Regions from separate parts of the Homo sapiens genome. Here all the other regions are linked to region 2. Evidence: fine-mapped expression QTL. A gene starts in region 2. Each other region holds a variant in brackets. All regions are shown on one strand. Distances are from middle to middle.

What was found.
Region 1: its variant is fine-mapped to the expression of CA5B in spleen (GTEx, PIP 0.93).
Region 3: its variant is fine-mapped to the expression of CA5B in whole blood (TOPMed, PIP above 0.99). The same link has a PIP of 0.9 or more in blood mononuclear cells.

The regions. Positions count from the first base shown.
Region 1 is chrX:15,343,419-15,351,601 of GRCh38, forward strand. It overlaps VEGFD (vascular endothelial growth factor D), which reads right to left. Exons shown (of 7, transcript NM_004469.5): 6 at 3,746-3,941; 7 at 2,178-2,841. The coding sequence ends at 2,715. It overlaps PIR-FIGF (PIR-FIGF readthrough), which reads right to left. Exons shown (of 15, transcript NR_037859.2): 14 at 3,746-3,941; 15 at 2,173-2,841. Among named protein-coding and RNA genes, the nearest start is that of PIGA, 12 kb to the left of the region's middle. The variant C/T (reference allele first, on the strand shown) is at 4,588.
Region 2 is chrX:15,733,505-15,741,687 of GRCh38, forward strand. CA5B (carbonic anhydrase 5B) reads left to right here and starts at 4,766. Exons shown (of 8, transcript NM_007220.4): 1 at 4,766-4,848. The region is part of intron 4 of CA5BP1-CA5B (CA5BP1-CA5B readthrough); the gene reads left to right. RefSeq lists a silencer at 4,431-4,730.
Region 3 is chrX:15,770,860-15,779,042 of GRCh38, forward strand. It overlaps CA5B (carbonic anhydrase 5B), which reads left to right. Exons shown (of 8, transcript NM_007220.4): 4 at 1,637-1,755; 5 at 3,443-3,538; 6 at 4,387-4,449; 7 at 5,855-6,010. It overlaps CA5BP1-CA5B (CA5BP1-CA5B readthrough), which reads left to right. Exons shown (of 12, transcript NR_160544.1): 8 at 1,637-1,755; 9 at 3,443-3,538; 10 at 4,387-4,449; 11 at 5,855-6,010. Among named protein-coding and RNA genes, the nearest start is that of INE2, 13 kb to the right of the region's middle. The variant C/A (reference allele first, on the strand shown) is at 4,792.

The DNA of each region.
Region 1 (8,183 bases), 390 kb before region 2:
CAAGTGCAGATCTTGATGGTAATTGGGAATTAAGGAGGAAGAAGAGGGAGGGGTTTTAGAAGCACAAAGCCAGATCACATTGAGTTTTGGCTTAGCTTAGAATTCCCTATGATAATCTCCATCTAAATGGCAATTATGAAGCCAGAGGCATTTCGAGCCAAAACATGGTTTGAGTTGGTTTTAGGACAGATCCAAGGATCCAGTATAAGCCAAGAACATCTCAGAGGTCCCAAGCTTCTGAGATTTGCTCAGTCTTGCTTTTTTCCTTCAGAATAATTCCTTTGAGCTATAAGGTACATTGTATTGTTCAATTTTTTTTTTTCACTAATCGTAACTCTAATGAAATTATCAATTCTGAGATTTAGGGAAATGAGATTATCATTTACATTTGACAGATGAGAAAACTGAGGCTCGATGACATTGTTCAGGCTTACAATGTGTTTAGGTGGCAGAGTCTGTCCTTAAATTCAGGTCTTTTCTCCTTAGTGATACATCCCCTCTTTTTACCAGTCGAGGATAAGCAAAGTAACTCCTTTAATTGTGTGGTATCCTTGAATTGTCTTCTGCCCCAGATCTCAAAGGAATTTAAGCAAATATCATGGAGAAGTTGGGAGTGGTAGAAACTGAACGAAAAGGCAAAGCAAAGAGTCGAATGCCAAGTATGTTTTAAAAAACTAAGTTATGTGCAAGCATTTTCAGAAGCCTGATTAAAAATACAGTAAAATGAGAAGGAAGAAGCCTGTTGACATCAAGGTCATAAAGTGAGGGCAAAAAGAACAGTGGCAAAAGAGGAGTGACTGGGTTGGCACCAGTAAATGACAAGAGCAATGACAATGGCAGCACAGTGGGGAGTGGTTCCAAGGCCAGGTGAAGGTTAGCTCATGTCCCCAGGGCAGGGACTGAGAGTTAAAGCCAGGGAAGCATCAAAGGACCTGGAGCCCCAGGCTTCAGAGAATTTCAGTGAATGAAGGGAGAATTCAGGAACTGCTTAGAAACCCTGGCAGAGGAAGGGTAGGGATTTGGGCCAGGATCAAACAATGCCACTACCATGGGGCTACATTTGTTTACTATTCCATTGTTTATCATTGTCTTTCTCCTTTTGATTGTACTGTTCCAGGGTGTTCTGGCCTGAGAAAGTTGGGTTACACAAATTTGATCAGGACACCGTTTCCAATCATAATGAGGTCACAGTATGGTGGGGAGATAAACAGGAACACTACTATTTACACAAATGTGTTGTAAGTACCATAATGGGTTGTGTGTGTCTATATACATATCTATCTATGCAAGATACTATGCAGGGATTAATTTTAAGTTATTTAATACATAACTTAAATCTGCTAATGCTGCTAAATTCTCTCTGTTATGGCAAAATTTCAATAAAGTCTACATCATTAACAAATTAGATGTAGGAGTACTTTGAGGAAAAAGGCTTTATGTGGCCGGGCGCGCTGGCTCATGCCTGTAATCCTAGCACTTTGGGAGGCTGAGGAGGGTGGATCACAAGGTCAAGAGCTTGAGACCATCCTGGCCAACACGGTGAAACCCCGTCTCTACTAAAAATACAAAAATTAGCTGGGCGTGGTGGTGTGCATCTGTAGACCCAGCTACTCGGGAGGCTGAGGCAGGAGAATCACTTGAACCTGGGAGGCAGAGGTTGCAGTGAGCCAAGATCGCACCACTGCACTCCAGCCTGGCGACAGAGTGAGACTCCGTCTAAAAAAAAAACAAAACAAAAAACAAAACAAAACAAAACAAAAAGTGATAGCTGTAGAACAGAGAGAAGAACTGTGTTGCCATGAGAGTTGGGGTGTCCATGACACTGAGATTTGAGTAAGTGCAGAAACTTGGAGCCAGAGGTGGCTAGAAGAAATGCAAACTCTCAAAGAGGTCAAGGGCATGGATGGGTTCCCCTCTGCCATGGGATGGGGATCAGGTCAAGTTCAATTTAATCTCAAGGCACAGAGTGATTCGCAGTGGATTCTTGGGTCACATTTGCTTAGCCTCATTTAGGATCTTAACCTTTCTGAGAGCTATTCCCTTGGTTTCCCAAAACTGAGGTCCAGTGTTTGTGTCTCTTCCTGCACCTTCCACTTTGAAATTCCTTTCTTTCTTTAAAACACTTTTTCTTTAGCATAAATATAGAGTGGAAGCATATTAAATAACATAAAATTATATGGCTTGAATAATGGTGTTTATTTTCTTTAAATACACTTAAATATGAAACATCAGATGGTAGTTCATTAAACTGGAAGACTATAAGCTGGACAGTAATCAGAAAGTCAGTACTGATCATACGAATCAAATTCTGCATAAAAAAGAATCAGAATAATTCACAAGAGTTGCGATTAGCAAAGGACTCAGAGACTACAGTTTTCCTCATCTGCTCTGAGTAATCAGTCATATGACACCTGCCATTCCATGACCAGCACACCTTTCTCATTCACCAAAAAACAAAAACAAAACTAAACAAAAGGATTACATGGGTCCCCTCCTCTCCATTCCTTGGTGCGCAGAGGCATCTGCAGCTAGAAGACATCCATCAATGAACCAGGGACTCCTTAGCTGGTGTGAATGGAAGGTTGGTCTGGATTCACTGTGGTGCTGTGTAAAATGGATTTTTTTTTTAACACCTGGGAAAAAAACAGTGACAGCAACTTGGCAAAGCAGCATGCTGTTAAAAATGACAGGGATGGGGAACTTGGAACGCTGAATCAAGGATTCTTTCGGCTGTGGGGCCCCTGGGCAGCCCTTTTCTCCTTTGGAAAGCGGCAATGCTTTGCACATGCTGTTTTGCCACTTGCACATGGTCTGGTATGAAAGGGGCATCTGTCCTCACAGCTGTTGCAAAAGAAAATAAAGATGAGAATTCAGAATCAATGACTGGATTCAAAAGAATAACTCTGCTCTGATTTGATTAAGTTTTCCAGACATGTATTTAAAATGTCAGTATAAAATCCTGCATGGTTATCCCACATGGATTCAAAATCTACTGAAGTGAATCAGTAACCTCCAAGTGTTCTATTCATGAATAAATTACTTGCTATATAAATCCAATGATATTCCCTCCATTAAAGAAAAAAACAAACATATATAGACATAAACAATGAGAGATTGAACTAAACAGGTTGATGATCTGAAACCTCCCCTTCCTAAAATATTATTATTAAGCAATATCCTAATAACTGCTTAAATTTTACCAATTTCATTGTTGTTTAAGAGCTCTAAACCCCGGGTGGGCGCGGTGGCTCATGCCTGTAATCCCAGCACTTTGGGAGGCCGAGACGGGTGGATCATGAGGTCAGGAGATCAAGACTATCCTGGCCAACATGGTGAAACCCCGTCTCTACTGAAATACAAAAATTAGCTGGGTGTGGTGGCACGTGCCTGTAATCCCAGCTACTTGGGAGGCTGAGGCAGGAGACTCCCTTGAACCAGAGAGACGGAGGTTGCAGTGAGCCCAGATCACGCCACTGCACTCCAGCCTGGAGACAGAGCGAGACTCCGTCTAAAAAAAAAAAGCTCTACACACATAATAACAGGCAGGATTGATTTTCTTATTTTCATGATTAATCATGACTCGGTATACTCTTGCTTATTCCTTAGCTGCTAAACCTCTGTTCTATTATCCAAAAGGGACTCAGGCACCAAGGGGAAAAATTAGCTTACTAAGGAATCCCACCAAATTAAAATGGCATCTACGTTAAATGTCATGAGTAAAGGCAAGACAACTCAAGGCATTTACCTGCAGGTGTCTGGGTGAAATAGCTTGTGCTTCTGGCAGCAGGTCTCCAGACTTTCTTTGCACTCAAAGCAACTGCAGTTTTTGGGGTGCTGGATTAGATCTTTGGGACATGGTGTTTTACAGACACACTCGCAACGATCTTCGTCAAACATCATGTGTGGCCCACAGAGAGCTGGTTCCTGGAGATGAGAGTGGTCTAAAGAGAAACAGAAACGTGTTGGTCAGATAGTTGTAGTGTGGCAATTGGATCACCAAAGTTGATTGTATCTTTTATGTCATCCGTAAGTAACTTGGATTCACCCAATCTCCTTCCTATAGATTTATGCCCCTAATTTTTTCACAGGGTGAGGAAGATTAACCTCTGATTTCACAATACAAACACAGGTTTGTGTGTTTTCTTAGGTTTGTGATTTTTAAAATATCATAAGCTGAATATTTTTCATAAAATATTTTTAGAGATTTTTATGTTGATGACTTGTTTAGAATGCAAACTTCCACAACCAAGTATTAGTAATAAAATATAGGATGTCTAAGGGTTATGAATCTAGCTGTCTCCATTTTTTGGTGGAGATTAAAAGGAGAGACACACAAAATAATTGGTGTTGTAGAAATACACCTCAGACATTCCAGGCCAGGCGTAGCAATAGCAATGCATGTCCTCACTGCAGATCATAACACTAGTATAAAAGATATAGGAGTAATAATGAACTTTGATTCCACCAACATCTGCTGGAAGATACATTCAAGTAAAGGGGAGGGTCTGAGAAGTTTTTGACATACTCATCTGACAAATATTTCTTCTAGAAGGTGTATAAAACAATTGAATAGCTACTACTCCAAAT[C/T]CATTTCTGATTAACAAGTTGAAATTCATTGCAAAATAAATGGAAGAGACAGAAACTTTGGAAGAACTTGACTCTGTCCCTTTAGCATTCTTGAAGGTTTTGGAGGGACGTACATGTTTAGTAGTTTTCTCCCCAAATCTGCTTCTCTCCCAGTTTGCCTCATTTAGGGAATGGTGACATCATTCTTGACTCACCTGCTCTGGTAAGTCTGAGCATCATGTCCACTCAGTTCTGCCTCTCTAAATTTGTTCTTTATTTTCCATCCCCACTACCACTCCCACAATTCAGTCTGTACCTTGTGTTTCTTTTGTAGATGGCTGTCGCTCTGTCACTCATCTCACCACCACAAGTTTTATCCCTCCAACCTATTCTTCTTCACATGATTAACAAATGCAAACCAAATCACTTCATTCCACTGCTTTGAATGCATTAAAAGGTTCCCTTCCCACAATAAAAACCAATTTTCCCACCAGGACATACAAGGCCCTCCATGAACTGGATCATAGTAACCTCACAGACTCATCTTCTGTTTCTTGCTTTCATATATCCTGTGTGTTCCATTTATACCAAATGACAGCACTTTCTGTTGCCCTGATATTCCAGTGCCTCCCAGTCCCATGCCTTTGGCCTTGTCTTTCCTTCTGCCATCCCTTTTCCCTGACATCTTTCCCAATGTCTGCAGGTTTAGCTAAGTGTCCTTATCCTGTGCATATTGCTGTCCGATTCTTTCTTGCACTGATTACATTTGTCTGTTTACTTGTATGTTTCCCCCATTAAGTAAAATGTCCTGAAGGAGAAGGAGCAGGTCTCATTGTTCTGATATAAAATAGGCACTCGATGGATGTTTGTTGGGTTTATTTGGTGTAATAAAAGGGTCCTGAAGCAGGCCGATGTATGGAGCTTCTGGGAATCCCATCCAGCATTCCAAGCCATTGGGTTAAACCATATGTTCTTGCCAATATCTGACTTTAATGACATATCAAAATGAGAATCTCGTGCGGTTCAACTTTATAGTTTAAACTTTTCTGTAATGCACGACGTTTGAGAATGGGTGCTGGAAGGCTAAATCTGAGAAGTCTCCATTTTGAACTTTGTGGAGAGGGAAAATGTGAGCTCTGTAAGTCATATGCCAGTGAGGCAGATGCCGCTTTGGGGTAAGACAAGAGTAACTTGTTAAAGGATAAAGAGGCTTTTTAAAAATTCGCAATGATCACTAGGTGGCAGCAGAAGTTCACTAAGAATACTTCAGACAGGCCCAAGGCCATTGTTGGACAGGGTTGTTCAGGGAAACACAATCCACAAGGTGTTTGCAGAACTTCAGCAGGCTGTTTGGCAGAGTCTGTGCTCACATCCTTATAGCCAAGTTAAAAGAAACAAAAACTGGATGCAAGAGAACTGGTGGTGGAACAGCAAGTAGCTGAGGGTGATATCTTGAAGTATTATGTATTGATTTCCGTCCCTAGAGAGTCTGATGATATGTTCTGTTCTCAGCTTTGTTCCTTTTACCATTTTTATCAATAAACTGATAGAATTTTTTCAAAATAAATTCTTGAAATTGTAGCTCTCTTCAAGAAGGAAGGGATATATTAAGTATTTTAAAATACAGAATTGGGACCTCCTCAATTTATTCTTTTGTGTGTGTGTGTGTTTGTGTATATCGTTTGTTTTAACAATTTAGAGCAATGACCTGACTCTAACAAGACTCAATTAAATTAGACTTGGATTCACTAACCTAAATGTGCTCATCTGGGCAAGAGAAGTCACTGTAGAAAAGGCAGTTGGCTTAACAGTCACATGTGCGGAAAAAAAGTATAGTGAGCAGTAAGCTCAGTAAATCCCATCAATTTGATGGGGCCACTGGAGAAATGAATGTGAACTTGATCCACATTGGGGACTTATAGGAGATGAGAATGAGAAACAATTGTGATCCAGTCCACCCTGCGCCTCTCACTTACATCATTGCTACAACTTCCCAAAAGGTTTCCTGCCTCCTTCCCTGCCCCGAGTCAACACATCCTCTTCTACACTGTTGCTGATATGATTTTGTTAAAATTCTAATGGGTACTGTCACTCTCCTGCTTTAGCCAGTTGTGTGGTTTCCCTTTGTCCTTAGTATCACATCCAAGCTCCCATGCAAGAATTACAAGGTCCTTCTGCTTTGCCCCTGTGAGCCTGTCCAGCTTCTTCTCTCACATCTAACCAGCCCCTTCCCCATTATGTCCCCACCCATTATATCCCCACCATGCTGAACTTCTTCCAGTATGTTCTCTCACCTCCAGCCCTGAGTGCTCATATACCCGCTGCTTAGAACAGCACTTCTCTTCTTCCCTATTCTTCTTACCACCCTCTACACACGTGTACTGGCTGAGTGCCTTCCCAAGAATTATCTCCAGCAGAAATAAGCTGCCTCTCCTAAGGCTACATCCCCTCTCCAAGGCAGCCAATGAACGGTCTACAGGGCTCAGCCTCTTCACCTAGATTTAAGACTTACCCCCGCAGGGGTTCCCAGCTTCAACTTCCCATTGGCTTAGGCTGATGCCTCTTAGCAACTGCGCTGTGGTCTGCTGCCTCTCTCTTTACCCTTTAATGCCTTGTGCCTGCCTACAAACCTCCTCCGTACAAAACTGTCTCAGAGGCTTTGTGCCAGGAAATCCTCAGCTAGAGCCTTTAAGCTCTAAGTATATTGCCCTTCCCACAGTAACTTACTTTCTTTCTCTTTCTTTCTTTCTATCCTTCCTTCCTTCCTTTCTTTTTCTTTCTTTTCTTTCTTTCTTTCTCTCTCTTTCTTTTCTTTTCTTTCTTTCTTTCTCTCTCTCTCTCTTTCTTTTCTTTTCTTTTTCTCTTTCTCTCTTTCTTTCTTTCTTTCTTTTTTTGGAGGCAGAGTCTCACTCTGTCATCCAGGCCCGAGTGCGGTGGCATGACCTCGGCTCACTGCAACCTCTGCCTCCCAGGTTCAAGAGATTCTCATGCCTCAGCCTCCTGAGTAGCTGGGACTACAGGCGCACATCACCATGCCCAGCTATTTTTTTTTTTTTTTTTTTTTTTTTTTTTTTTTTTTTAGTAGTAGTAGAGATGGGATTTCGCCATGTTGGCCCGGCTGGTTTTCTTTTTTTTTTTTTTCTTTTTTTGAGACGGAGTCTCGCTCTGTTGCCCAGGCTGGAGTGCAGTGGCGGGATCTCGGCTCACTGCAAGCTCCGCCTCCCGGGTTCACGCCATTCTCCTGCCTCAGCCTCCCAAGTAGCTGGGACTACAGGCGCCCGCCACTACGCCCGGCTAATTTTTTTTTTGTATTTTTAGTAGAGACGGGGTTTCACCGTTTTAGCCAGGATGGTCTCAATCTCCTGACCTCGTGATCCGCCCGCCTCGGCCTCCCAAAGTGCTGGGACTACAGGCGTGAGCCACCGCGCCCGGCCGGCCCGGCTGGTTTTCAAACTCCCAACCTCAAGTGATCCTCCCATCTCGGCCTCCCAAAGTGCTAGGATTACAGGCATGAGCCACCATTCCCGGCCAACCCCACAAAAATTTTCTAACACTTTTAGAACATGAGTCACATGGAGAAAGAATTAGATTTGTTTTACATGGTTCTATAGGGTAAA
Region 2 (8,183 bases):
AGCCATTGCATACCAGCCTGGGCAACAAGAGTGAAACTCTGTCTCAAAAAAAAAAAAAAAAAGAAAAAAGAAAAAATATGACATCCTAAATAACCACTGTGTTTAATGACATATCAGATTTTACATTCTAGTTCAAGCTTATCTCAGCTTGAACCAGAGTACCTAGCAGTTCATAGGCTAGCACTTGAGTAGCACTGCCTTCTATCATTTATAGTTTAGTTCCTGGCATATAACTAAGCAGTCACTGAACAGATAAAGGAATTAATGAATCATAAAATTATTCATTTAGCAATATTTAAAGGGTATTTGCTGATGCCCCAGGTACTGTGTTAACTGCCAGGAGTACAAAGTTGGGCAAATTGGTCAGAGTCCCTGCTCTTAGGGAATTTACATTATAGTAAACAACCAACCAACAAATAATCAAATAATTTCAAATACTGAGAAACACTATGAAGAAAATAAAATAGGTAATAGAGATGGAGAGGTGAAGCTGTTACTCAAAGTGTCTTTTTGTTTTGTTTTGTTTTGTTTTGTTTTGAGACGAAGTCTCGCTCTCACCCAGGCTGGAGTGCAATGGCGTGATCTCGGCTCACTGCAACCTCCGCCTCCTGGGTTCAAGTGATTCTCCTGCCTCATCTTCCTGAGTAGCTGAGATTACAGGTGCCCACCACCGCGCCTAGCTAATTTTTGTATTTTTAGTAGAGACAGTGTTTCGCCATGTTGGCCAGGCCAGTCTCGAACTCCTGACCTCAGGTGATCTGCCTGCCTCGGTCTCCCAAAGTGCTGGGATTATAGGCATGAGCCACCGTGCCAGCCTCAGAGTGTCTTATAGAACCTCAGGATTGCATCTCCTGGCAGCATGCTTGAAATCTAGAATCTCAAGTCACATCGCGGAACCACTGCATCAGAGTCTGCATTGTAACATGATCTTCGGGTGATCTCTGGGCACAGTGCAGATTGAGAGGCTCTGGATACAACTTCAGATATGGTTGTCAGGAAAAACATATCTAAAGAGGTGACATTTTAGCTAAGTACTGAATAATGAGAAAACTCCAGCCATGTAAAGATCCGAGTAAAGAGTGGTCCAAACAATGGGAACAACAAAAGAAAATGTTCAGAGACAGGAATGAACATGGGAAGACCAGTATAGGTGGATCAGAGTGAGAAAGGGACCTGGAACTCTCTACACTCTGGTATTTATCAAAAACCCTGTGGTGAGAAATTATTTATTTATTTATTTATTTTTGAGACGGAGTTTCGCTGTTGTTGCCCAGCCGGGAGTGCAATGGTGCAATCTCGGCTCACTGCAACCTCTGCCTCCCAGGTTCAAGCAATTCTCCTGCCTCAGCCTCCCTAGTAGCTGGGATTACAGGCATGTGCCACCATGCCTGGATAATCTTCTATTTTTCGTAGAGATGGGGTTTCTCCAGGTTGGTCAGGCTGGTCTCAAACTCCTGACCTCAGGTGATCTGCCCGCCTCAGCCTCCCAAAGTGCTGGGATTACAGGCATGAGCTGCTGCGCCTGGCCACGAGAATTGTTGATTTTGAGTGACTGCACAAAGTTCTGCATGCAAGACCTCTATTTCTACAAAGCAGAGGTACCAGGTAGGTTATTGCATGCAGCCACTTACCTATCCTGCACCCACAGCATTGTTAACTGAGTACAGAACTTTTTCTTTCTGAGCCTGGACAAAGCCCCCAAACTTCTCAACATAGTTATTCAGGCAGCTACTACAAATAGTTCAGAGTTAACATGTGAGTTGAAACCTATTTGCCATCCTGGGGAAAGATGATCTAAATGCTACCCTGGATTAAGCCAGACCATTGAGGGCTTGTGTATTCAAGTGAACAGAAATATGTTGATGGTTCATGGAATTTTTTTTTTTTTTGATACAGGGTCTCAGTCTGTTGCCCAGGCTGTAATGCCGTGGTGTGATCACGGCTCACTGCAGCCTCAGCCTCCCTAGGCTCAGATGATCCTCTCACTTCAGCCTCCCAAGTAGCTGGGACTACAAGCATACATCACCACACTCAGCTAATTTTGTAGAGATGGGGCTTCACCATGTTGTCCAGGCCGGTCTCTAACTCGTGGGCTCATGCAATCCTCCTGCCTCAGCCTCCCAAACTACTGGGATTACAGGCCTGAGCCACTATGCCTGGCCAATTCATAGAATTGATTTAATGCACTGTGCTTTGTGATTGTGCCAACAGTTTCCATTGAGGGGATTTGGGTGTCACTCCTTATGACACATAGTTCCCACTAGGCTCACTACATCATCTTTATGAGGAAACTGTATTTCTCTCAGGACTAAAATTCAAGAAAAACTGCTTCTATAAAAACAAAACAGCCGGGCACGGTGGCTCCCGCCTGTAATCCCAGCACTTTGGGAGGCTGAGGCAAGTGGATCACCTGAGGCCAGGAGTTCGAGACCAGCCTGGCCAGCATGGTGAAACCCCGTCTCTACTAAAAATACAAAAATTAGCTGGGCATGGTGGCGGGCGCCTGTAATCCCAGCTATTTGGGAGGCTGAGGCAGGAGAATCACTTGAACCCGGGAGGCAGAGGTTGCAGTGAGCCGAGATCATGCCATTGCACTCCAGCCTGGGCAACAAGAGTGAAATTCCATTAAAAAAAAAAAAAAAAAAAAAAAGGCCGGGTGCAGTGGCTCACACCTGTAATCCCAGCACTTTGGGAGGCCGAGGCGGGTGGATCACCTGAGGTCGGGAGTTCAAGACCAGCCTGACCAACATGGAGAAACCCCATCTCTACTAAAAATACAAAATTAGCCGGGCATGATGGTGCATGCCTGTAATTCCAGCTACTCAGGAGGCTGAGGCAGGAGAATCGCTTGAACCTGAGGGCCGAAGGTTGCAGTGAGCTGAGATCGCGCCATTGCACTCCAGCCTGGGCAACAAGTGCAAAACTCTGTCTCAAAAAAAAAAAAAAAAAAAAGGGAAAAGAAAAAAAGCCAGTTTTTATCTTATGAACAGTAAAAACCTAAAAATGATTGCTATTTCCTCTTTTCTATGGCTATTCAACAGCTTAGTTAGGGTCAAATTTCTGGCCTACTTCTGACAACTGTTCTGGATCTGATGGAGTGCAAACTTAAATGTTAATCTTATCATTGGCCACATCATTCTCCTTCCATTAAGCTCTCCTTTCACTGGTTCCTTCCCCTATTTTTAAATCTACTAATGTCTATATTTTAGGACGCTGCCTCAAATCATTTGTGGAAGAAGGTGAAGTAGAACTACTTGTATAAAAATAAACTCAGTAATTTATATAGACTGTATTTGGACCAATTTCTGTGAATTCATTTTTCAGGCAAAAAATGACTGACAGTTGAAACATTTTATAAATGAGGCAGAGTTCTCAGGGTCAGGGCGAGCATAATGAAAGTGTTCTGTTGAAAGTTGTTCTTTTCTCTGTGTTCCTTCTAGCCCAACATTTTGAATATTCTCACTGTCTTCAAGCCAGAAATGCAAGGGAGGAGAAGAAAAAAGAACTGTGTGATAGTAAAATCTTTATTGTTGGCATATGAAGCAATATAAGTAGCAAATTTTACTTCTACAAAGGGGGGAAATTATATATTTCTATACATGTGGAAGAGTAGATATTCAGTGAAGATTTTTTGATAATTTATTGTGTAAAGAAATGTACTAAATACTATAAAAGTGGCTTCCTATGTTTACTACCCCCAAATATTCCTACTAATGACCTGAGATTACCAACTCCTTTTCCACCTATTAACCTTTTGCCACATCTTCCCCAATTTTCTCATCCAAACCCAAGTTGGGGCAACTTCAGACTGTAAGCTTCTTGAGGCTTGTCTTGTTTGTCAGGGGAGCATGTACTCAATAAATGAAATTTGCATGAATGAGTCAGAGATTTATGTACACAGGGGAAGAAAGCTGGTTATAGCTTCTTCATATTTTTCACGTGGACCCAGAGTTGTAAATTGAGGGAAGAAGGATAGCAGAGTAATCTCAAAGCACAAAGTGGGGGTGATGTCTTCACACGCCCTCAGCAGCAACGGGGCACTGGGTGCTTAGGAAAGCCCATCTGAAGGAGACATCAGGAAGTAGAGGAATTCTGTTTTTTCCACTCATCTGCCTAGTATTTAAGGTCGGCTAAGAGGCTAGAAGGAACACATCCACAGTTCTGCTTTAGAGGATATGAAAATTGGGCTGGAAGGAACACGGGTCCACAGTTCGAGTTCAGAGGACATAAAAACTGGCTCAAAGAAACTCGGGTAAATTGGACATGAAAACTAGCGGGAAAGGACACGTTCAGTGTTTGTTTCCCTACTGAGTCACCTGTTCCCAGCACATAAAGTCGTGGTGTTTGGAGATGGGAGGAACCGAGGGAAAGTCACTTTTTAGATAAGGCTCTGAAGCCCCAGGTCTAGTTTCAATCCACTAATGCGGCCAGCGGCGAGCAGGAGGAGGGAGGATTGGTCCGGCGGGGGCGGGGCCAGAGCAGGGCTCAGAGGCGTGGCCCAGGCTAGAGGGAAGAGCCCAGGGGGAGCGCAGAGGCGGGGCTAGGAGGGAGCAGGGGTGAATGGGGGCGTGGCCCGGGCGAGAGGGGCGTGGCTGTAGCTAAAGGGGTGTGGCCAGGGTGGAGGGCAGAGACTGGCACAGTTTGGTTGGGCGTGACCGGGGCAATAAGTACGGACGTAGTGGGGCGTGGATCTGCCAGGTGGGGGCGTGGCCTCCATTGAGGGGCGTGGCCCTGGTATGTGGGGCGTAACAGGGCACGAGGGGGCGTAGCTTCGATGGCCGGACGTGCAGGCTGCGGATCCCCGTAGGCGAGCGAGCGGCTAGGTTCGTGATCTGGAGAGACGCTCAGGTAAGGACGGGTGGCCGAGAGGAGTGGGGGGCGACCAGGGACAGGCCGATCCAGACAGGGCCGTGATTCTTCCCACGACTCTCCGCTCTGGCGCACCGGGTTCCGGAGCTAGGAGAGCTGTTGATCCTGCGAGTATTGTCTGGGTCCCGGCAGGGCGCCCGGGAGTACTGAGTGGGGCCTAATGGGGTGTCGAACTCCCCCACCCCAGCCCTCTTCCTCCACTATGGGAGTTACCAAACGGCTGTCATCCTTTAAGGTTCTTTGCACAGGACGCGATAACAGCTGTTCCAGAGAAAAGGGGGTGGGGGCGCGGGAGAGCAGTTCCTTGGTAGGTAGGGTTGCCAAGGTTGGTTGAATCCAAATAACTCCAGAAAGTCCAGCCTTCTGTGAAATAGCTAGAGACGGGGGTAAGGGCGACAAATCTGAGGTTGCGGTTCCAGAAACCGAGGCTCAGTAAACTGGAACTCCCTCAGATCTGCATTGTATCCGCACCACCCACTATGCTAGGGGCTGTGGAGAGACTCACAGCCACTCACCCCCAAGACAGGGTATCAGCATCACAACTGTGCCATGCGGGCAAATCTGAGCTTTCTTCACCCTGCAGTTCTTTCTTCTGGCCTTTTTGTTTTGTGCTCAGCCCTAAAGCTGAAGGAGAGGAACCTCCAAATACAAACCTTGTTGGTTTTCGTGATTCTTGTGGCATTCAATGTTAAATGCTTCTGCCCCGAGGCTTGTGGCAATTGGTTAATATTGATGTCAGTGCCCTTCCCTCCTGTGTATTTTCGCTGGGAAAGTTTGAGAGATAAGGGGAGTTGATGTGTACAACTTAGTTTGAAAAGAACTTGTTCTCTCCTAGCCACTGAAAACCGCGTTGCTTTCTGCTTCCCATTCTTCCTTTACTGATAATCTGGCCATCACTCTGCTGTTTAAAAGTCTTGCTAGAGTATGGAGACAAGTAGTGCTATTTCTGTGGTGAGAGAAGCTGCCCCAGAGCATACCCTTGAATTGTCCCTGCACATCTCTCAGGAGTGGCCACTCTTCTTGGGTATGTTGGAAGTGGAAAACCGTAAAGCTTTCTAGGAATATTTTTTACTGAGGTTTTTTTTTTTTTTTAACCTCAGCATCAGGGTTGGAATTCACTGAAATGCCAAAAGCAGCAAGGGCACCGTTCTCTGTGCCTGTACACACCTGCCCTCTTCTCCCTGGAGCCAGGCAAAAAGCTGCAACCACTCACAATTGGAACGCAGTAAAGGTTGAGTGAATTGTGAGTGAATGAATGAATATGAATATTTGGGAAATTTGACGGAAAGGGGAAAATGCATTTCATCTGATTGGTGGCACTGGGCAATTAATTGCAGCACAAAGAGCAGTTATTAGAAACATATTCTGAAACCTTTGGCTACCACACATTGGGATCATGCTCCCAGGGAAGAAGTGGGTGAGAGGGGGAAGCTGAGCTTTCTCAGTCAAGATATCGCAGCATAATCTCTAATTTAGATTTCAGGGAATTGCAAAAAGGCTTGTTGCCTTTTGAAATCAGGTGGTGATCAAAGGAAGGGTCCATCTGTTGAAAATGAAGGAATTTTTTTCCAATGTAATTGTAACCTTTAGTCAGAGTACATTCTTTTTTTTCTGTCTGTTTTGCCTACATATGAATGGCTTAATCAGGCAGAGTTCAAGCTGCTTGTCATTTAATAAATACAAGATTTATGAATGACTCATTGAGGGCTTTCAAAATCTTTGTTTCCACGCATTTCTAAGTCTGGAAAACAGCTAAGGGGCAGGTTAGCAAAATCCAAGGATATACATAAATCATCAGTGATGGCAAAGAGTATATAACACAGAAAGCTCCCCTGTAGTCCATCGAGCCCAGGGACCCATCTTTATGGACAAACTTATGTACGGACAGATTCTCCCTGAAATACAGTAATGTATGGTATTAGTTGATATGTGCTGTGTTTGCTGGTTAAACATTATTTTTGGTTTCACAAACTTGGGTTTTATGAATGCAGTGAGTAAGTTTAAATAACCAACTCTTAAAAAACTATAACTTCTAATTTAACAGAGAGGATAGACCTTAGGCCTGAACAAAAATAACCTCATGTATTGTTATAGGTATTGCAATCAAGCATTAGCTAAATTGAATTTCTGTTTACTTGGATTTTCCTGGAACCTCCTCACCTGGATCTTCCAAGCTCTGCGCCTTCCTTGATTGCCTTTGACCGTTCTCAGTCTCAGCATCCTTCATGGCTCCTTTTTGTGAGTCTCCCTTGATATACCTGTAACTGCTGGGAGGAGGGGATTCTCTTTCTATCTGTAGCTTCCTGACTGCTCCTGAGCACCAGAGCTGTGTTGCCAACTCTCTCCTAGACCTTTCCTCTCAGCTATCCCATTGACACCTTAAATCCAATATGATTAGAGGGCTGGGCGCCATGGCTCACGCCTGTACGCCTGTAATCCCAGCACTTTGGGAGGCTGAGGCGGGTGGATCGTTTGAGGCCAGGAGTTCGAGACCAGCCTGGACAACATGGCGAAACCCCGTCTCTACCAAAAATACAAAAATTAGCTGGACGTGGTGGTACGCCTGTGGTCCCAGCTACTTGGGAGGCTGAGGTGGGATAATCACTTGAGCGTGGGAGGCGGAGGGTACAGTGAGCCAAGATCGTGCCACTGCACTCCAGCGTGGGTGACAGAGACCCCATCTCGTTCTGTTTTTCTTTTTCTTTTTTTTTTGAGACGGAGTCTCGCCCTGTCACCTAGGCTGGAGTGCAGCGGCACAATCTCGGCTCACTGCAACCTCCGCCTCCTGGGTTCAAGTGATTCTCCTGCCTCAGCCTCCCGAGTAGCTGGGCTTATAGGCTTGCACCACCATGCACGGCTAATTTTTGTACTTTTAGTGGAGATGGGGTTTTGCTATGTTGGCCAGGCTGGTCTGGGACTCCTGCCATCAAGTGATCCACCCTCCTCGGCCTCCTAAAGTGCTGGGATTACAGGCGTGAGCCTCTGCACCTGACCCGGAGACCCTGTCTCAAAAAAAAAAAAAAAAAAAAATCCCATTTGATTAGAGGTATGACCTGCCATCATCTTTCCCTTCCCTGTTTCTCATGACAGGTTTGTGGGGGATTTTGTTTGTTTGTTTTTTTTTGAGACAGTGTCTTGCTGTGTCGCCCAGGCTGGAGTGCAGTGGCACGATCTCAGCTCACTGCAACCTCTGCCTCCTGGGTTCAAGCAATTCTCTGCCTCAGCCTCCCGAGTACAGGCGCCCGCCACCACGCCTGGCTCATTTTTGTATTTTTAGACAAAAATCTCTAGACGAGGTTTCACCATCTTGGCCA
Region 3 (8,183 bases), 37 kb after region 2:
CAGGTTCACACCATTCTCCTGCGTCAGCCTCCCGAGGAGCTGGGACTACAGGCACCCGCCACCATGCCCAGCTAATTTTTTTTTATTTTTAGCAGAGACGGGGTTTCACCATGTTAGCCAGGATGGTCTTGATCTCCTGACCTCATGATCCGCCCGCCTCAGCCTCCCAAAGTGCTAGGATTACAGGCATGAGCCACCGTGCCCGGCCAAAAACATCTTATCTGGGCCAGCCGCAGTGGCTCAACTGCCTGTAATCCCAGCACTTTGGGAGGCTGAGATGGGTGGATCTCTTGAGCTCAGGAGTTCAAGACAAGCCTGAGCAACATGACAAAACCTCATCTCTACAAAAAAAAAAAAAAAAAAAAGCCTGGCATGGTGATGCACGTCTGTAGTCCCAACTACTCAGGAGACTGAGGTAGGAGGATGGCTTGAGCCCAGGAGGCAGAGGTTGCAGTGAGCCGACATTGTGCCACTGCACTCCAGCTTGGGCGACAGACTAAGACCCTGTTTCAAAAAAAAAAAAACACTTGTCAATATTTTGCCTATAATATATTGGTAATAATTTGTGTGTGTGTGTGTGTGTTTGCGACAGAGTCTCGGTCTGTCACTCAGGCTGGAGTGCAGTGGCACGATCTCAGCTCACCGCAACCTCCGCCTCCTGGGTTCAAGTGATTCTTGTGCCTCAGCCACCTGAGTAGCTGGGACTACAGGCATGGGCCACCACGCCCAGCTAATTTTTTTTTTTTTTTTTAATTTTTAGTAGACATGGGGTTTCACCATGTTGGCCAGGCTGATCTCAAATTCCTGACCTCAGATGAGCCACCCGCTTCAGCCTCCCAAAGTGTTGGGATTACAGGTGTGAGCCACCAGGCCCGGCCAGTGTGTTTTTTCAATTGACATATTTGTATACATTTACCAGGTACAATGTAATCTTTTGATATATGTATGCATTGTGGAATGATTATATCAAGCAATGAAAATATCCATCACCTCACATGCTTACCATTTTTTTTTTTGTAGCGAGAAAATCTACTGTTACTCTTTTAGTAATTTTGAAATGTGCAATAGATTATTATCAACTATGGTCACCATGCTGTGCAATAAATCTTGAAAACATATTCTTCCTAACTGAAACTTTGTACCTTTTGACCAACATCTCCCAGGTGATCATTTTTGACTTGCAAATGTCCTATTCCATTTCAATGAAAGGGAAAGCAACACTAGTATCTTCAAAACTTGAAAAGCAAAGTGTCTGTGCATAAAAAAAGAAAGATCCTTTTATCCCCATATTTCAGTATTATAAAGTCATGTTGGATAAATGTGCTGAGAGAAATTTGCATTTTATTGCACACAAAAGAAAACTGGACACAATAATATAGGATATAAAATTAAGTCAAGAGTTGGCCTTTAACAATTGTTTGTAGCTTGTTATGTAGTTAAATCTTGATGTTATTTGGTCTTGTCCTTATACGTGCATTGACTTCATGAAAATCAAATTTATAATCACTTGTATATAATTCAGTGTAATCCATTTAAGACAGTTCACATGGAGGGTCCATTGGAGATTTGGCCTTTCACCCACATTCCTCCACTGCACAAATAACTCTTCCCTGAATTGTTGGATGTGCCATTTTAGTGATCAAGGGAGGACCCCTGGAACACAACTACCGATTGAAGCAGTTCCATTTTCACTGGGGGGCCATCGATGCCTGGGGTTCTGAGCACACCGTGGACAGCAAATGCTTCCCAGCAGAGGTATGTTGAGAAGGTCAGGAACAGTGACAACTGTAGAGAAGTGGGGATAATTCTGAACTTTTAGTTGTAAGACATTATTAGAATCAGGTGATTCCTATAAATGCTAAATAGCTTTCTCAGGCAGTTTTGATCATTCTCAGCTAAGACATGTAAAAATGTTAACTTCTCTCATCTCAAATAATATAGTTGAAATGAACCTTAAGATCCTGAAACTGAATTCTTCTGGAATTCGAAAGTGGACTCAAATAGTAGCCCAAAGTAATAACCCAGGGAACATTGTGGAGCCACAGGTTGAATTAATGCAAGTTTGCGGTGGTGGGAGCCTAAATGAAGGCTGTGGCAATAGAAATAGAGAAAAAGGGCAAGATTTATCAAGCATTTCTGAAATTAAAGCAACAGGACTTGAAGGTAGGGTTCTCTTCAGGATAGGAGAAGGCAAGGTTAACCACGACTTTGTGGTGTCTCACTTGGGAGGCTGGGTGATAATGCACTCATAACTGATGAATGAGGAATGATTTGTAGGGAAATAAAGGGAGATTTTAAGGAAATAGAATTTCTTCTTACAACTTTTTTCCTAATTCAATTGTAAATGTTATGTAAAAAAAGCCCATTTAAAAATTTATTTTATATTTTTTATATTTGTTTCATTTTATTTTGCTTTGTGAGACAGGGTCTCACTCTGTCACCCAGGCTGGAGTGCAGTGGCACAATCACGGTTCACTGCAGCCTCGACCTTAAGCAATCCTCCCACCTCAAGACAACAGGCGCACATCACCATGCCCTGCTAATTTTTTTTTTTTTTTTTTTTTTTTTGGGACAGAGTTTTGCTCTGTCGCCCAGGCTGGAGTGCAGTGGCGTGATCTTGGCTCACTGCAAGCTCTGCCTCCCGGGTTCACACCATTCTCCTGTCTCAGCCCCCCAAGTAGCTGGGACTACAAGCGCCCACCACTGCGCCCAGCTAATTTTTTGTATTTTTAGTAGAGATGGAGTTTCACCGTGTTAGCCAGGATGGTCTCGATCTCCTGACCTTGTGATCCACCCACCTCGGCCTCCCAAAGTGCTGGGATTACAGGCGTGAGCCACCGCGCCCGGCCTGCCCTGCTAATTTTTAAATTTTTTTGTAGAGACAAGGTTTCACTATGTCGTCCAGGCTGGTCTCATACTGCTGGATTCAAGTGATTCTCCCACCTTGACCTCCCAAAATGCTGAGATTACAGGTGTGAGCCACCACACCCAGCCTAAAAGCACATTTTAAATGGTTATTCCTTGAAGAAGAAATTTGTCTTTAACTCCTGCATAATTTCCATATGGAGGATCTATTTCTCTCAATATAAACATCTTCTCTCCTGTAGATGCAAGTGGATTTCGAATATTGGTATTTCATTCAAATCAAGATGGGACTGGACAAATGTTGATTGCTCACTGAAGTGTCACTTTGTTATATGAATTTTCTATTTTTCTCCCCAAATAAATCCCTTTATTCTAAAATAATATTAATTGCTGCTCTTGCCTAAATTTCTTCCTGATCTTTGTTTCTATCTCATTTTGGATTGTCATATGGTTTTCTTGGTGGCTTTACTTTGGGTGAGGAAACATGTTTAAATGTCATAGGTTGACTGAGGCTGTGGGTTTATTCTGGAGAGATTCTGTATAGTCACGTGTTAACCCTCTTTTCATGGTGTTTCAGCTGCACTTAGTGCATTGGAACGCAGTCAGATTTGAAAACTTTGAGGATGCAGCACTGGAAGAAAATGGTTTGGCTGTGATAGGAGTATTTTTAAAGGTAAAATATCTCACCAACTTTAAATGACGTGTTGTATTCTAGGATGAAAAGATAGAACAGTATAATATTGTTATTTACTTTAAGAATGTTGGGATCCATACATTGGTAAGATAAATAGTGCTTGAAGTACAGGATTGTTAAGAATATATTTTAGGGCCAGGCATGGTGGCTCACGCCTGTAATCCCAGCACTTTGGGAGGCCGAGGCAGGCAGATCACTTGAGGTCAGGAGTTCGAGACCAGCCTGGCTTCCATGGGGAAACCCTGTTTCTACTAAAAATACAAAAATTAGCCAGGCATAGTGGTGCGCACCTGTAATCCTAGCTACTCGGGAGGCTGAGGCAGGAGGATCGCTTGCTTGAGCCTGGGAGGTGGAGGCTGCAGTAAGCCAAGATTGTGCCACTGCACTCCAGCCTGGGCAACAGAGCGAGACTCCATCCCCCCCACCACCAAAAAAATATATATATTTTAAATGATATAAAAATGCACAGCCCAATAGAGTGGTCACAAGCCACATGTGGCAATTGAGCACTTGAAATGTGTCTACTGCAGTTCTGGAACCATTTTTCATTTTATTTAATTTTAATTTCAATTTAAGAACTTAAATGAAGCAGGGGGCACCTTTCACTGCAGGCATGCTGACCTTGTCAGCAAACAGCCTGCTGATTTGTTCTCTAATTTAATTCAGTAATGTTTATAAAATTATAAATTACAAGTTTAAGTGTAATTTCAGTCATGCAGTTTGTTTTTATGTAATCACCAGGTAGTTAATTTTAATTCACATTCTGTTACAGTTTCTACAGTGAGATGTCCATTGTTTGTAATATTTTCTTACTTGTTGTTCTTTAGCTAGGCAAACATCATAAGGAGCTACAGAAATTAGTGGATACTTTGCCGTCAATTAAGCATAAGGTACTATTTGTTTTCCTTAATTACTTGAAATATACTTTTATGTTTCAATCTCAGAGCGGAGACATTACCAAGGCACTTTGAATTGGGAAGTTTAATTAGGTGAACTGTATTCAGCCTTAGAAGAAAACTTGCCATTTATGATTCCAGGGGACAGAAGTCATCATTCTGTGGGTAGGCAGTGAGCTTTCTGGTTTTGCTGCAGTGCCGCTGAGGACTTGGGGACTCAGGAACATATTGCTGTCCCCTCCTCTGTTCCTGACACCGGCTCCTTCTAAGTCCTTGTGAACACACCCAGAGCAGCCTTCTGTTCTGTAGCTGCCATCCCACAGGCAGGGAGCAGAG[C/A]GCAGTTCTACAGAAACTTGCCTTGTCCAGCTAGAAAGAACAGTAATCCACATCCTTCAGGTCGGATGCCTTTGTCCAGTCCCCCAATATTAATTCTTCAATATTCAGAATCTCAAAGGGCTGCTCTCTGGAGGCCCATATATTCTCTTCTTCTCCCTCTCATCCCCCACTGTATCCCTCTGGTCCCCACCTCTTTCCCTCTCCTTTCCTCTCTGGAAGCCCGTATATTATCTCCCCCCATCCCCCACTCTGACCTTCTGGTCCCTACCTCTTTCCCTCTCCTCTCATCTCCATTTTCCTGTTTTTCCCTCTCTTTCCTTTTAGTTCAGGTTTCTGGCTCCTCCTGAGCTGCATTTCTTCTTAAAAGGACAATTCTCAGTTAGCCTCTCGAAAATGCAAAGCCTCCAACCGGGCGCAGTGGCTCACGCCTGTAATCACAGCACTTTGGGAGGCCGAGGCTGGCGGATCACGAGGTCAGGAGATCGAGACTGTCCTGGCTAACACAGTGAAACCCCATCTCTCCTAAAAAATACAAAAAATTCGCCGGGCATGGTGGCGGGCGCCTGTAGTCCCAGCTACTTGGGAGGCTGAGGCAGGAGAATGGCGTGAACCCGGGAGGCGGAGCTTGCAGTGAGCCGAGATTGCACCACTGCACTCTAGCCTGGGCGACAGAGCGAGACTCTGTCTCAAAAAAAAAAAAAAAAAAAGAAAAAAGAAAAGAAAATGCAAAGCCTCTTTCTTTATGCACTGGCCGCTGTCTAAAACCTCTCAACAAAACTCAGAGGAGACTACCTGCTGGAACCTCACTAGAATTGAGAGATCAAGTGGTTTTGGCCGTTTTCCCACAGGGGAATATAAAAAATGCACAGTTAATTCCAGAAACAAAGCCAGGCATGATACCATCCTAAGCAGCGATTCTTCAGGTAGCTGCCCAGAAAGGCCTGGAGCTGCTCTGGACCACTGCTGATCTCCAGATACTCCCTGAGAACCGTCACCTCGGCGTCCAATTCCTGAGTGGTTTTCACTACTAAATAATGACTCGGTTATCTCTTCTCTTGGCCAGGACGCCCTTGTGGAATTTGGGTCATTTGACCCTTCCTGCCTGATGCCTACCTGCCCAGATTACTGGACCTACTCAGGGTCTCTGACTACCCCACCCCTCTCCGAGTCTGTCACCTGGATCATTAAGAAGCAACCAGTAGAGGTTGATCATGATCAGGTATGTTCTCTCCATAATTTCAATCTAAGGAAATCCTTGTCTGCCCATGTAAAACAAGGCTGGGCTCAGACTGTGGCATCAGTTTTAACATCTTGTAATGCTTATACATTTTTATTGAAGTGTACCAACGTCTTGTCTCAGTTTGGACATGAATTTGGGGATGTTTCAAATTAACTAGAGAGAAGAGTTAAAACACAGAAGAACATAAGTTTTTTACATTTATATTTGACAATTACATATGTCTTCTTATGCCTTGTGTATTTTATATATAAATATTAAACTCTATACAAAATCAAGACCCTTTTAAAGGGAAGAGTGAAGGCTGGAAATGAATGTGTTCAAAACTGTTTAAAATCCTTAAGGGAATTCTGCTATGGAATCTCAGGATAAATACAGAATTCAACAATGTTTGTCCAGAAACTTTAATGTAAGTCCATTTTTTGAATTTGGGATCTATTTTTCCCTTAGAAACTAAGTCTAAGTAGTATTTACTATGCAAACACTCAAAATCCTGTATAATGTATAATATAAACTACAATAATATTTACTCATACTTGTTTTATGGGATTTTTATTGATTATAAAGCATTTTCATAAGAAAAAAAGCTTCCAAATTCTTTTTATGAAGCCAGCATAACTGATACCAACACTCACCAAAGATTGGACCCCCCTCTGAAGAATATAAAAGAAAAAAAAGCTAAAAAGAAAATATTAGAAACAGAATCCAGCAGTACATCAGAAGAAATATACACTTTGTCCAAGTAGCTTTTACTCCAGTAATACAAGTATGGTTCATGTTAAGAATGATATTAATGTAATTCATTCTATCAGTGGATCTAAATAGAAAAATCATATTATCATTTCCAGGGAAGTTAAAAAGACATTTGTAAAAATCACCATTCAGTTTTTGAAAATTTTTAATAAAACAGAGCTGAATAGAGACTTCCCTATCTTGATAAAAGAGATTGATCTCAGTTCAAAAGCAAATAGTAGGTTTTGAATGGAAAGGATTGTTACCGTATTAAGTTTTATATTAAATTACATTCTGGAAGTAGCCAGTACAGTTAGACTGGAAAATAAAAAATAAATTAGAGAAACAATAAAAAACGACTACAAAAATCAGAGATAATTTGGTAATCAGTGGAATACAATATCAATTTCTAGAAATCAATACATTTGACATATATAAATCACAATCAGCTAAAAGATATGATATAAAGATATAATGTAAGAAAGGCTCCTATTTATAATGGAAACAAAAATATAAAATACTTCGGAATAATTTTAACAAGGAAAGCTAATAAGAAAACTTAAAATGTTCCTGGAGGATACAAAAGAAGGCTTGAATTAATAAAGTTAACACATTATAGGATCAAAAGACATAAAAACACCTTTTTTTGTCATAAATGACAACCTAAGTTGTCATTCTCCATGAATTATTTATTCACCATAAATTTATGTATTCCCAATAAATATGCCAATAGGATTTTTAAATTGATATGCTATTTCTAAACTCATGAATAAAGACAAACACATAAATAGCCAGGGAAAATTCTAGAAAAATACGGGATAATTAGACTCACAAAGTTATAAAGCCTCAATAATTAAATAGCGTGTTCCTGGCACATGGATAAAGAGATCAATCAAGGGAAGTATATTAGCGTTCTCCAGAGAAACAGAACCAATAGGATATATATTGTATTAGTCCATTTTCACACTCCTATAAAGAACTACCTGAAACTGGGTAATTTATGAAGAAAGGAGGTTTAATTGACTCATAGTTCCACAGGCTTAACAGGAAGCATGACTGGGAGGCCTCAGGAAACTTAAAATCATGGCAGAAGGCAAAAGGGAAGCAAGGACCTTCTTCACATGGTGGCAGAAGAGAGAGAGAGAGATGGGGGAAGTGCCACACACTTTTAAACCGTCAGATCTCATGAGAACTCTTTCACTATCACGAGAACAGTAAGGAGGAAATCCACCCTCATGATCCCCTCCCCTGACACAGGGGGATTACAATTCGACGTGAGATTTGGGTAGGGACACAGGGCCAAACCACACCAGATATAGATAAAGATAAAAAAAATTAAGAAAGACAAAGTTAGATAAATAACCCTATAAAGGTTAAATAACCTTAACTCTATAACCCTATAAAGATAAATAAAGAAAAAGAT